2 linked regions of the Homo sapiens genome follow. The protein of the gene in region 1 binds, or shares a complex with, the protein of each later gene. Each region holds a gene or a part of one and is shown in the gene's direction. Other genes may lie near its edges.

Region 1 (7,025 bases):
TGATCACACCACTGCACTCCAGCCTGCATGACAGAGTGAGACCCTGTCTCAAAACAAACAGGCCGGGCACAGTGGCTCACGCCTGTAATCGCAGCACTTTGGGAGGCCAAAGTGGGTGGATCACCTGAGGTCAGGAGCTTGAGACCAGCCTGGCCAACATGGCGAAACCTCGTCTCTACTAAAGATAAAAAATTAGCTGGGCATGGTGGTGGGCACCTGTAATCCCAGCTACTCGGGAGGCTGAGGCAGGAGAATCACTTGAACCCAGGAGGCGGAGGCTGCAGTGAGCCGAGATCATGCCACTGCCCTCCAGCCTGGGCGACAGAACAAGACTTTGTCTCAATAAAACAAACAACCAAAAAGAAAAGAAAAAAGATACTTTTCTAATATATGACTGGGAAAAATGGGAAACTATAAAGGAAAAGATGGACAGATTTGACTGCCTAAAAATTAAAACTTTCTCAATAGGGCAAAACAATAACATAAGCAAAGTTTAAAGGTCTGTTGACAATGGGAGGAAAATACGTCTAGCGCTCTCTGTATCAATGCCCCAACTCTGGGTTTGTGTGGCATTGGTCTAGACAGCACTGTACATAGTGCCCCTGAAGTTGTGCCATGCTGTGGCCCTGGCCTGAAGCTTGCCACCACTTGAGACCTATGCATGGACAGTGGATCCCTCCAGCCTCAAGTTGTCACTGTGCGGACTGCTGACTGGGTGCCTCTGGGGGACTGGGCTGTAAAGATACAGCTGTTGCCTGCTGGAACCTCCAGTGCCAGAGCAGCAGCTGGGACAGGGGTGGTTTGAGGTAGACGTCTCTGCTGGTCATTGTGGATACACCATTTGACTAATTTTTTTTAGCTACCTTCTTGATTCCAGAACTTTTGTAGCCTTCCTCTTAATCCATTTCTGATTTGGAGGTGTTTTTTTTTCTTTCAGTTGCAGAGCTATTTTGCTGCATGTGAGGATGAGATCCCTGCCATCCGGAACCATGACAAGGTCCTACAGCGTCTGTGTGAGCACCTGGACCACGCCCTGCTGTACGGGTAAGGTGGAGGAAGTTTCCAAAGATGACGGAGCACAACCCAGGCCATGAGTAGCCTCCACAGAGAAACCCTTAGCCTCTCTGCCTTTTCTTTCTTCTCTCCCCTTGGCAGAAAGGGATTTGTCCCACTCAAGTGGGCCACAGTCTCTCTGTAGTTACCCCAGTAAATCATCTCTGGGCAGACATAAATGATGGAGGGAGGATTTGCCACAAATGATATGATGGTGTGAAGGTGTGCTGGGTGCCTGGGAGACCTGCTGGGGATCCATCACTTCCTGCCTTGCGCTCACTGCTGGACCAGCCGACTGCAGCTTCCCAGGGTGGCCCCATGCAGGTCACAGCAGCTCCTGTCCTGTTTTCTCAGACTGCAAGACCTCTCCTCTGGCTACTGGGTGCTCGTGGTGCATTTTACTCGGAGAGAGGCCATCAAGCAGATCGAGGTGCTGCAGCACGTGGCCACCAACCTGGGGCGCAGTGAGTAGTCACAAGGAGACGCTGGGGAAGGGACCAGCTCCACCTTCGGTGGGTAGCTTGGGGCTCTGTCCCAGGTTTACCCTCAGGGTCAGCCCTGGGAGGCAAATTACCTGGTGGTGTCCAGTAGCAGTGGGGTGTTAAAATGCCAGCACCAGGCCAGGCATGGTGGCTCACACCTGTAATCCCAGCATTTTGGGAGGCTGAGGAGGGAGGATGGCTTGAGGCCAGGAGTTTAGACCAGCCTGGGCAACACAGTGAGACCCCATCTCTACAAAAATTTAAATATTACATGGATGTCTTGGTACACACCTATAGTCCCAGCTACTCAGGGGCTGAGGTGGGAGGATGGCTTGAGCCCCGGAGTTTGAGGCTGCAGTGAGGCATGACCACAGCATTGCACTCCAGCCTGGAAGAAAGAGTGAGACCCCATCTCTAAAGATTTAGGAAAATGGCCGGGCACAGTGGCTCATGCCTGTAATTCCAACACTTTGGGAGGGTAAGGCAGGAGGATCCCTTGAGCCCAGGAATTTAAGGCTGTATTGAGCTGTGATCACACCACTATACTCCAGCCTGGGTGACAGAGTCTCTGTCTCAAAAAATAAAATAATAGTAATAAATAATAAATTTATAAAATGCCAGCCCCCTCCATGAGGCCTCTTTTCTCCCCACATATGATGGTTTTTTGGCACAGCAGTGATGGGGAGAAAGAGGGCGAGCTGCCAGCGAGAGCTGGACTCTTATGGAATCCCAGCCTGAGCACGTGCTATGGAGTCTGGTTTCTCTCCCTGAGCTGGGATCACTGTTAGCCTACAGGATCAGTGCAGAGTCCTGGCGTTTCTTGACCTGTCTGAAGTGTGCAGTCTGCCCTCTTTATCAGAATTTCCTGGCCAGCTACATGCTGAGGTCTGACTAGGAAAATAAAGCACTCAGGGGTTATGGTACCCCACCAAGCACAAAGGCCACTGAAGTGCCTGGTCCCATTACCTGCTCTTTCTTTCCTTTCTGCGCTTGCTTGGCAAATAAAAGCCAGCAGTCTGAGAGGCCTTCCTGCCGGTTACTCCTGCCTTTGTTTGCAGGCCGTGCCTGGCTGTACCTGGCCCTCAACGAGAACTCCTTGGAGAGCTACCTGCGGTTGTTCCAGGAGAACCTGGGCCTGCTGCATAAGTACTACGTCAAGTGAGTGTCTGGGACGGTCTGTCTCCCCTAGCCTCAGAGCTCCCTTTCAGCTACCTCCCAAAGGCTCTTGTCATGCAGACAGCACAGTGTGCCACATCAGTGATGCCAGAGAGCCATTAGAACCTTGCCAGTAGCTGGGTAGCCTTCACCAGGAGCACCGGTGTCCCATCTGGGCTCCTGGGTACAGTCTGGGTCTCTGCTGCTCCCTGGTCCTCCTCCCAGGCTTCAGACCTGACCAGTGCCCATGCTTTGGCTCAGCCTTTGCTGGGGTTGCTGCAGGAACAGAGTGTGTACAGCAGCTGCTGAGAGCCTGACAAGCCTTGTGCTCGTCCATCTCTGAAGACACTGGCAGGACAGTGCAGTGTGGCTGCTAACCCAGTAGGAGATCGCTGAGAGGGTGGTGGGCAACAGCTATATCAAGCTGGGTGCCGTCCAAGGTGGAGGACATCACGTGTCAGATTTCAACACAGCTGGTATGTTGGTAAGGTTAGGCCAGGCTGGTAAACAGACCCAGAGGCACCATCGTGGCTTCTCATGTCTTGCAGGAATGCCCTGGTCTGCAGCCACGATCACCTGACGCTCTTCCTGACCTTGGTGTCCGGGCTAGAGTTCATTCGTTTCGAGCTGGATCTGGTGAGACACCAGGGCTCTCACTGCTTGTGGGAAGCAGAGGAGGGGGCAGGGTGGGGGCAGGGTGGGCGGTGGCTTCATTTCTCAGGTCTTGTTGAGGGAGCTTGTTGAGTATGACTGGGCTTGAGCAAAACTTGTTTTTTTGGGCGAGGGAAAGGTTTCAGGGTCCATCGAATTGAGTGAGAAGAGAAGTGATGGCAAGAATTCCTGGTTCAGGTGACTTTTTCCTATCTCCCTATCCAACTTGGAGAAAAGCCACATTGCCTGGAGTATCTTAGCCCAGAAGAACTGGCCTTCATGTTTAGGATGTGAAGAGTTAGAAGGACAAGGCAGTTTCAGCCTGGTGCTTCTGGGGTTCTGAAAAGTGTCATCAGCTCCATGAAGAGCCTTCAGCCACCCTCTTCAAGTTCTCAAGTTTCTCTCCCCATCACACCCTGTACAAATGGGATGCTGGCCCACATAGAGCCAAAGAGGCTCCCAGGCACCTCTTGGACTGGGCTCAAAATGGATGCAGCTGCCCCGTCCTAATCAAATGACCTTCCTTGGGCCAGGCGCAGTGGCTCACACCTATAATCCCAGCACTTTGGGAGGCTGAGGTGGGTGGATCACCTGAGGTCAGGAGTTCGAGACCAGCCTGGCCAACATGGCGAAACCTCGTCTCTACTAAAAAAATACAAAAGTTAGCGGGGTGTGGTGATGGGCGCCTATAATCTCAGCTACTTGGGAGGCTGAGGCAGGAGAATCGCTCGAACCCGGGAGGTGGAAGTTGCAGTGAGCCGAGCCACGTCATTGCACTCCAGCCAGGGCAACAGAGTGAGACTCTGTCTCAAAAAAAAAAATAAATAAATAGAGAGAGAGAGAGATAGCGGGGGCATCAAAGGGTGTAGCTGAGTTCTGACAGCTCTGTCTTCCATCAGCCTGAAGTCCACAGCTTTAAAAGCCAACACTATTCACATTGCTCTTCTTAGCAGCTTTTCTTTGAATTTACTACCTTAAGCCATTGATTTCCCAAAGAGGCACATCTGTGTCTCCCAGGCCTGGATCCTGCTGTCTGCAGAAGGCCGCTGCACGAGGCCTCCCACCAAACGGGCCTCCTCTACTCTCTCCTCAGGATGCCCCTTACCTAGACCTGGCCCCCTACATGCCCGACTACTACAAACCTCAGTACCTGCTGGACTTTGAAGACCGCCTTCCCAGCTCGGTCCACGGCTCAGACAGTCTGTCCCTCAACTCTTTCAACTCCGTCACCTCCACCAACCTGGAGTGGGATGACAGTGCGATTGCCCCATCTAGTGAGGGTGAGTGGCCCCAGGGCAGAAAAGCTAAGCCCCTGTTGTGAAACAGACTTGAACTGCTTAAGCCTGGCTGGGTGATGTCTTCCTTGGCTAGTTTTGGTCTGGTGGCTGAAATTTGCAATTAAACAGGGCTGGCCATTTCCCAGATCTTCATCTCCTCAGAGTCCCTGTGGTGGCTAAAAAGTGGATTCTGGGCACAAAAAGCTGAAATTATATATATATATATATATATAAAATATATATTTTTTAAGGTTAGACCCTTTTCCAGAAGGTTCTAGTCACATGCCTGTGGCAGTTTTCTAAGCAAGGAAGGTTTAGCAGTGGGACCTGGAAACCTTGTCGCAGGGTTGAGTGTTGCCTGTTCTGGGGAGCTTGTCTGACCCCACATTCTTTGCAGAAGGAGGTTAAGCAACCCCTAGAAGAAGAGAGAACCAGGCAGGTCTGAAGCGCAGGGAAACCTTGCCACTGTGTCCTGTGTGTCCGTCCGATTTCTCTGAGTTCCTTCTGCGCTCGCTGATGTGTTTGGGATGGTCGCACCCTTTGCATCAGGGACCGAGGAAGAAGCTGCAGGTCATTTTGTTGTCTTGACCCAATGATTTACTGGAACAGCCTGGTTTCTTTCAAACCTTAGGCCCTGGTGTTCATGGATAAAACTGGCCATTTTCCCCTCTTTATCTCCTGTAGGAGACCAGAGCCCTTCATTTACTTCACCCCACCACCTCACCTCCAGGGAAGGGGATCCCAGCCCCAATTTAGCCCTGGGGCACCCTAGAATTGCCTCAGCATTGAGACCTTGACCTTCCCCTTTCTTTATTTCTGCTGTACCACGGGTTATATGTCCCAGGAAGGGAGGTCCCTCTCAAACTTGCTGTTAGCAAGACCTGCATTGCTGACCGTGCAAGCTGAAGAAGGCGGCACAGTCTCCTTAGGTTGGGCCCATGGGCCACCTTAGAGGAGTTGGAGGGGTGGGCCTTGCCGGAAGAGCCAGGGCAAGGATGGATCCATGGATGGAGGTGTCCCCTCAGCAATTTGGAGATTGTGCAACTGCAGCTGCCAGGGCAGTGTCTCCTTGCCCTGCTAGGGTATGGAGGGAAGGCACGTAAGAGGTAGAAAACAAAGCTAGGCACAGGCAGCCAGGCTTCTCTCTGCCAGAACCAGCTTCTGGATGTGGAAAGGGGTCACCCTGACAGGTCTTTCCAGCTGGTTGGAGGCTCCTGGGCCAGCGCCTGAGCTGAGAGGCAGTCAGGGCCCTAGTAAGTTTCCCCAAGGTTGTTGGATACAATGTAGAAAGTTGAAGTTTTCCTCTCCTATTTTCTCCCCATGTCTCCCACCCCATTTCCCCTCCCCTCCCTCCAGTCATCCTTCCACTGCCTGTGTTTCTAATCTTCAGTTTTGTCCCTCGTTTTTGTAGATTATGATTTTGGAGATGTGTTTCCAGCAGTGCCGTCTGTACCCAGCACAGACTGGGAAGGTGGGCCAGAGTCCGCTGTTACCCTCTTTTCCTGTTTTGCAATGTTTCCATGCCAAGCTTGCTGCATGTATCAAATCAGCTCCTTATTATTTATAATAATATCCATAATCATAATAAAGCCAAGTTTGGTGTTCTAATAGATGGAATTCTGCAGTGGGAAAACTCAACCTCTAGCCATAGGCAAATCCCTTCTCCCAGTGCAGGGCTCCTGCCTTTGCTCAGTGGCCTTTCGGAGTCACTAAGTGGCTGCATTTCGGGGGATACAGGGTCACCCTTCCTGATTCCAGTGCCAGCTGATGCTCTCGGGGTGTGTAGGGCCTGACCCAGTGAACCAAGACTTGTTCTGGAAAACCATGCCTTTAAACATGCGGGTTGTAAGCTCCTGCGGGTCAGATGAGCATCGAAGAGAAAGAGCTTGATTCTTTCAGTCTGTTCCTAATGGCTTCCTCTTGGGTGTTTTGGAGTGGTTGAGGTCCAAGTCAGGAAACTGCCCAGGTACAGCTGAAACTTCCTACAGACAGAATCTCTTTGAAGCTTTAAAGCAGATTAAAAGGAAATCTGCCAGCCCTCCCACCCTGTCTGCTGGGCAGTAGCAGTGCCTGGGCATTTTTCTGCCTGAAATTCCACTTCATAAATTCACAAAGCTATTCCCAGGTTGCCACGATTACTCAAAGCAAAGGCTATGTTGCCAATAAGGTGAATGTTTCCCCCTTAAATCTGAGGCCATAGCAGATCCCTGTTATTTTACTTTATGTTATTTTATTTTACTTTTTGAGACGGAGTCTCGCTCTGTTGCTCAGGCTGGAGTGCAGTGGTGTGATCTTGGCTTACTGTAACCTCCACCTCCCGGGTTCAAGCAATTCTCCTGCCTCAGCCTCCCAAGTAGCTGGGATTACAGGTGTGTGCCACCACGCCCGGCTAATTTTTGTATTTTTA
Region 2 (7,025 bases), on another chromosome or scaffold:
AAGTATGACAGCTGTTCTAAGCACAGACTTATCCTTTTAATTCTTCTCATAGGAATCTGTCTGCTATTCAGGATAGAGAAATTTGCTGCTATTCAATTTCTTGCAAAGAAAAGGATAATATAGGTAAGAAATGACTGGTAATTTTGGAAGAAATGGGTATCATTGGAAGGAATGTCTATGCTTCTTACAGCTTATTGTCTCGATTTCTCATTAAGTGACTTCCTTTTCAGAATACTGTTGCTTTTGCCTGAGAAAAAAGAATAGACATACCTTTTGACAACAAATATAGTGAACCTTCACTTAACATCATTGATGGCTTCTTTGAAATTGCAATGTTATCTCTCTCTCTCTCATACAAATATATATATAATATAATATATGTAATATGTATTATATATTATATGTAATATATATGTAATATGTATTATATATTATATGTAATATATATGTAATATATAATATATATAAATATATATTATATATAACATAAATATATATATATAAATAATATTATATGTATATGTATTTTTTGAGACAGTGTCACTCCTTCACCCAGGCTTGAGTGCAGTGGCGTGATCTCGACTTACTGCAACCTCTGCCTCCTGGGTTAAAGCGATTCTTGTGCCTCAGCCTCCTGAGTAGCTGGGACTACAGACGTGCACCACCACGCCCGGCTAATTTTTGTATTTTCAGTAGCGACAGGGTTTCCATGTTGCCCAAGCTGGTCTTGAACTCCTGACCTCAAATGATCCAACTGCCTCGGCCCCCCAAAGTGTTGGGATTACAGGTGTGAGCCCGGCCTATATGTTATCAAACTCTTGAACAGCAAAAAATTTTTTAAAAAGAGGAAATTGCACTTTTAAGCGAAATGACATACAGTAGGCCCTCATTTCGTTCAGCGTTACAATGTTAATGAGAAAAAAATAGTTTTGTTATACACCATTTCACTTAAAGTGGCAGTTTCCAAGAACCTATCAGTGATGTTAAGTGAGGACTGAATGTATAACATCCTGAATCTTCTTTGTGCTATTTAAAGAAGAAAATGCAATAAAGTCGTGAGGTTAAGATTATGTGATACCAATTTATTGTGTTAATTTTTGCAGAGCTAGTATCCCGCTGTGCTTTATAACAAAATGGCATTTTTGAAATAAGACTTTACAAAAATTAGTCTACAGGCACTACAACAATTTTTCAGTTATTGAACCAGTATATTACTGCAATATGTTAGCACTCTATTGGAATTATATGCCCAAAATACCCTTCATTTACTCAATGCCCATATTAACTTCTTAGAACTGCCATAACAAAGTACCACAAACAAGGTGGCTTAGAACAGCAGAAACTTAAGTCATTCAAAATTCTAGAGGCTGGAAGTCCAAAATCAAGTTGTCAGCAGGGTCGTGTTCTCTCTGAAGGCTGTAGAAGATCCCTCCTTGCCTCTCTCTAGCTTGTGGTGGTTGCCAGCAATCCTTGGCATTCCTTCACTTGTAGATATACCACTCCAGTCTCTGCCTCACATTCATGCTTCTCCCCTGTAGTTGTCTCTGTGTCAGTGTATTATGTTTTCCTAAGGACGCAAGTCACTGGATTAGGTAGGGCCCACCTAATCCAGTATGACCTTATCTTAACTAATAACTTGCAGAGACCCTATTTCCAGTAAAAGTCACATTCTGAGGTTCTGGATGGACATGACTTTTTAGGGGGACATTAAACATTCTAGCATAGTATGGTTACAGAATAAGTATGTATGGCTCAACTTTAGTTTCTTAACTAATTTGGTTTGAGATGATTTGATAAATGAATGTATTGGAACAAAATGTAATAAATAGTACCAGAATAGTATATCTATAAAGTTTATGCTGATATTTTTTCTTTAGCTTTTGTATTCCAGTCTATCCTTCCCTAACTCACCTTCCACCCCGCCTGCAAACATGGCTTTATTTATTTTTATTTTTTTAAGATGGAGTCTCACTCTGTCGCCGTGGCTGGAGTGCAGTGGCAAGATCTTAGCTCACAGCAACCTCCACTTCCCGGGTTCAAGTGATTCTTGTGCCTCAGCCTCCTGAGTAGCTGGGATTACAGTTGCCCACTACCACGCCTGGCTAATTTTTGTATTTTTAGTAGAGACAGGGTTTCATCATGTTGGCCATGCTGGTCTTGAACTCCTGACCTCAGGTGATGCACCTGCCTCAGCCTCCCAAAGTGCTTAGATTGACAGGCATGAGCCACCACGCCCAGCCACAAATATGCTTTATTCAGTTTAAAGTGTGGATAGTCGTTCTGGCTAATTTTGGGCTTCCTTTAAAGACCATCCAGGGCAGTCTCAGCCTTAGTAACAGCGGATAGACACAAATTTTCCTTTATAAATGGATAGAATAATTCACTTGTTACATTGGGAGCATTTATTTGAGAACAGACTCCTCAAGCACTTGTGGTTACTTAGACTTTATTTAAAAGTTTTTTCTCTATGTGGCGGGGAAAACTCTTTTTAAAATTTAAGATATGCCCCATGAGAGCATTTATTTCTACATCAGTGGTTCTCAATGGGGAGCTTTTCCCCCAGGAGACTTGACAATGTCTGGAGACATTTTTGGTTGTCATAACTAGGAGGGTGATGCTGGCATTTAGTGGGTAGATACCAGAAATGTAGCTAAACATACTATAACCTCCACAGCAAAGAATTATCCAGCATAAAATGTCAGTTGTGGCAAGGTTGAGAAATCCTGTTCTACACTAACCGTAATTTTTAGTCCATTGTGCTATTTTGTAAATCCATTACTCCCTACATGTTTTCTGTTTTTCCATTGTTACAAACTAGTTGGATACTTCCTGAAAAAAAAACAAAATCTCTTGGGCTCATATATGGAAGTGCAGTAGAGCTGTGAGGACTTCTTTCGCTATTTGAGGCTGATCTTTATAGTTGGCTAAATAGCTCAGTAGTAATTTTAGAACTCCTGGCTCACTTAAAAGGTTGTCAAGCCCAAGGAATCTGATCCAGTCTAATAAGATCCACTCTAATAAAATTCGAAATAAGTATTTTGTAGATCAGTTCATCTGAGTATCTTATTTCTGTTGTCTTTTTGCCTATTCATAAAGATCCATTTGTCTTTAGGATATGAACTTCTATCAGTATCCACAGAGGCTTTGTGTAATTTTTTAGTGAATTTCTTTTTTTTTTTTTTTGAGATGGAGTTTCACTCTTGTGGCCCAGCTGGAGTGCAGTGGCGCAATTTTGGCTCACTGCAACCTCCGCCTCCTGGGTTCAAGTGATCTCCTGCCTCAGCCTCCCGAGTAGCTGGGATTACAGGCGCCCGCTGCCGTGCTCGGCTAATTTTTGTATTTTTAGTAGAGATGGGGTTTCACCATGTTGGCCAGGCTGGTCTCAAACTGCTGACCTCAGGTGATCACCTGCCTCGGCCTCCCAAAGTGTGGGATTACAGGTGTGAGCCACCGTGCCCGGCCATGAATTTCTTAAATATTTAAATTTGGTTATTTCACTTCAGATTTACCTTTCTCCCATTCAGTTCCAATGAGTGTGGCTTTGCTCGTATTGTGCACTGTTGTCCCCATTTTAAGGTGCAGAGGTGCTTCTTCAGTAGTTGGGTTAAATCATTGCTTCCACAATGGTGAACAGTTCATGTTTGTTATAGCTCAGCCCTGTGGTGTTTCGTTAATGCATGTTAGCTGGGAAACTGGTAGTGAATTTACCCTCATCTTTCAGGCTTGGAGAATAGAGTGGTGCTTCTGATAGACTCTCATGTACCCTTCTGAAGAAGTGAGGACAAGAATTACCCAGCCCCAGATGTCAAAAGGGCATGGTGTGAACCCTGCACCAGCCTTGGCAGTGACAGCCTCCTCTCCCATCCCTGTGCTTTAGTCACATTGTATCACTCACAATCCATCCAGAGCTCCACAATGTTTCATGCCTTTTAACATTCTTTTGCTGTTTTTTTTTTTTAACCTGGAGTTCTGTGGGGTGGCCCCCAAGCCCCGGGAATTACTGCATCTTTTCTGTGTATTATACTTAAAAGCGCCTTGAGGGCAAACAGGGGTTATTCCTTTTTTTTTTTTTTTTTTTTTGCCTTCCTGGCAATTTGCATGCAACACCTGATTGATTGTGTGGGCAACACATAAAAGGTGGCACCAGCCGTCCTATACACAACTTAATTTTTAAATCAGAAAACGCTTCAGTCTCTGATAATTCCTCATATTCTCTTGAAGTTCGGGTAATGGAGTATGGTAATGCAGATGCAGAAAAGCAGCAGAGGTCAGGCATAGTGTGTGCCTTGAATTAGCTGCCTTTTAAATATTGTCTCTGTTTGATGTTTAGTTTTTTAACTTTAATGTCTTCACTTTTCCCCTCTATCTTTAGATATCACACTTCAGTGGCTTATTCAGCATTCAAAATCTAGAAGAAGCTGAAGCATCTCCTGAAGTCTTCCAGTCCTTCTTGGCTATAATCCTAGAATTATTGTCCGTTCCTCTGAAGTAATTCCCAGAATACGGTCCTTCCTAAACCCCAGAAATTGCCTTTTTCAGAGTTTATTTCTCATGTGCACTGCTGAAGATGAATATCCCTAATCCTTCATAAAGAATCAGCTAGAGTTGTCATGATAAAGTCAGCACACACAAAAAGGCTTCTTACACATACCTGTCTTAAACCATGTGTAGAGCTTTAAAAACAGAAAAAAAACCCCATATACTTATGACCATCTTAAATCAAGAAAATTGCATATTTCCATTCTGGTCTTTCTGGGCCAGATTTTTATATTGGTTTTCAGTAAATGTCTATCTATAATATTTCATTATAGAGTCCAGTAGCTTAATACTGACACTGACTTGATACAGCATGAAGTTTCTAGTGCCACACACAGTATTTAGAAAACCTTTAGGCGTGAATGACTCATGTGGGATATATGTAAACATAATGTTTATTTTATCTCACAAATGCATGTGAAATGTATAATTACATCTTAGGAATCCAAAATGGTCTGCAGAGAGTGAGCGGAGGCACCAGATCAATGTTGGTTCTTTGCACTGGTGAGATTCTGCCTGATGAATATTAAAGATATCCTGCTTTCTGAGAACTCTATCACCAGATGGCAGTTGGGATATGGGAGGAACTAAAGCATCCTGTTTTGTATCTGTCCAGATCATTATTTCTGTCTCTTGTTTTTTCTTCCTGGTTCAGGATACTTTTTTAAGGGGTTGAGAATTGAAGATTTTCCAAAAGCGTTCATGAATTTAGAGCATTCCACCCAATATAATAAAACCTGTTAAGAATGTCAGTCTTTGTTCAAACATCTGTTTGTTCTATCTCCAGTCATTAAATCAGTGCTGCTGCATGACACTCTTAACTCCTGACTTTTTATATCCAGTCATAAAGTTGACTTTCAGCACAAAAGATACTTATAAACAAATAAAAAATTTTTATTTTTCTCTCTTACTGATGTAAGCTTTGGCACTCTTTTGACTGGTGCCATTAGACATCTTGATTATTGTGACAACTCTAGACCTGCCTGCTTTATCTAATGTAATCATGCTCAATGTCTACAGGTTGTTTAATAATCAGTCACACAGAGAACTGAGGAACTGATGCTGTTTGTTTGCTTCTATGATACAGAGATGTCTAAAAACTTCAAATGGACATGTTTTGTAGTTTAGCGACTTCCGTATACATAAAGGGACATATTAATACTGGTTCATTTGTAAATTATTATTCATATAGACCACTGTAGTAGATAAAACTCTATGGTACACCTGCTTATGTGTTGCCTCACACTGTGTGTGATTTTGTTTCTTTTGTTAAGCAGCACTTATGTAGACTGCATTTCCAAATGTGTTGAGCACTCAGAGTGTAGTCAACAGTAAGTTCTTTTAATGAATATCAGTTTTAATTTATAGACTGCCATGGCCTTAAAAATATTCTGTACAATATACTGCACTGTGTTGCACAGACACTACTTGCTTTTCTCCATTCATATTTTTATGAGTAGAATCTGGGCTTTTAAATTTCTCTTCTTATTCTTTGAAGCATGTTGCATACTACCCTGGTGGGATGGATGGTTCTGTAAATGAAGGGATATTTAAACTTGCTACTGTTGTTCAACACCATTAATGGTCAGTGTGAACCATTACAAAGAATGTGGCAACTTGCTTGTGCCTAAAAGGAGGAATTGGAACTAGAATGTGTGACTCTGTGGGGACTGCATAGGTTTGTTAATTGACCTATAGCTAAACCTTAATGTGTTTGTGTGTCTATACATTGCTTTCCGCATTTCAAGACATCCAGACGCTATTACCAACATTTTCCTGTGCATTAACCTCTGCATGTGAAAACTTTTAACAGTTACTGAACTATGTAAATATGTGAATTTTTTTATTTAGGTGGATGCATTTTTTGTCTGTTTACTGCTCTTCTCAGCTTTATTCAATAAACTTGCATTTTAAGGGTTGTATTGGCAATTTTAACTTAAAATGTGCATCATGATGGAAGGTGCAGACTTTTTTGGAAGTTTCCGAGAGGAGGGTCTATAGACCATTTGTCAGAAATCAGATCAGCCCTCAAAGAATGGGGTCTGTGGGCTAGTTAAAATAGAAATAAACTTTTAAAATATCCACAGAATTGATATTGTGATTTTTTGGGGGCGGGGGAAATGCTACTACTTGTCAACGGTCACAATACACCAAATTTAGGACTTTAAGTGGCAAGTGCTAGTAAAACATTTTATGTCCCAGTTTTTACAAATCAAACCAAGACCCTGCTAAGCAAATGAAGTTGCAAGACATGCCTATTCACTGACTTCAGTTCAGAATGGAAATATTTTAAGTACCGAACATGCTGGTTTTCCCACAAAGGCACATTTTTAGCATAAAGCTTTTTGCTAGTTTGGTATCATCTGCCCATAAAATAAGTCAATACTTGAGCTATTGGAAAAATAATTGTGTATATTTTTATTTGTTTAGAAAGGTTCAGTTAGCATTTTCTCCATACGCATACTACAATTCTGTACAGCCAACCCTTA

The links.
Region 2: the proteins of PLEKHM2 (region 1) and ARL8B are in contact, whole or in part, in a crystal structure (PDB 8JCA), measured with the Homo sapiens proteins. Residues at the interface, in NP_055979.2 of Homo sapiens: His70 (codon at 1,448), Phe71 (codon at 1,451), Thr72 (codon at 1,454), Arg73 (codon at 1,457), Arg74 (codon at 1,460), Glu75 (codon at 1,463), Glu103 (codon at 2,623), Ser105 (codon at 2,629), Glu107 (codon at 2,635), Ser108 (codon at 2,638), Tyr109 (codon at 2,641), Arg111 (codon at 2,647), Leu112 (codon at 2,650), Glu115 (codon at 2,659), Glu147 (codon at 3,300), Phe148 (codon at 3,303); in NP_060654.1 of Homo sapiens: Glu22, Thr52, Val53, Gly54, Phe55, Asn56, Met57, Lys68, Trp70, Arg77, Phe78, Arg84, Tyr85, Arg87, Gly88, Val89.

The regions. Positions count from the first base shown.
Region 1 is NC_000001.11:15,715,300-15,722,324, forward strand, and holds part of PLEKHM2 (pleckstrin homology domain-containing family M member 2), read left to right. Parts: intron 1-937; coding exon 938-1,044; intron 1,045-1,407; coding exon 1,408-1,517; intron 1,518-2,593; coding exon 2,594-2,693; intron 2,694-3,238; coding exon 3,239-3,326; intron 3,327-4,434; coding exon 4,435-4,621; intron 4,622-5,037; exon of another isoform or gene 5,038-5,145; coding exon of another isoform or gene 5,146-5,188; intron 5,189-6,029; coding exon 6,030-6,089; intron 6,090-7,025. UniProt on the Homo sapiens protein: Plays a role in lysosomes movement and localization at the cell periphery acting as an effector of ARL8B.
Region 2 is NC_000003.12:5,174,292-5,181,316, forward strand, and holds the end of ARL8B (ADP-ribosylation factor-like protein 8B), read left to right. Parts: intron 1-52; coding exon 53-123; intron 124-4,372; coding exon 4,373-4,422; 3' UTR 4,423-6,620; downstream 6,621-7,025. UniProt on the Homo sapiens protein: Small GTPase which cycles between active GTP-bound and inactive GDP-bound states.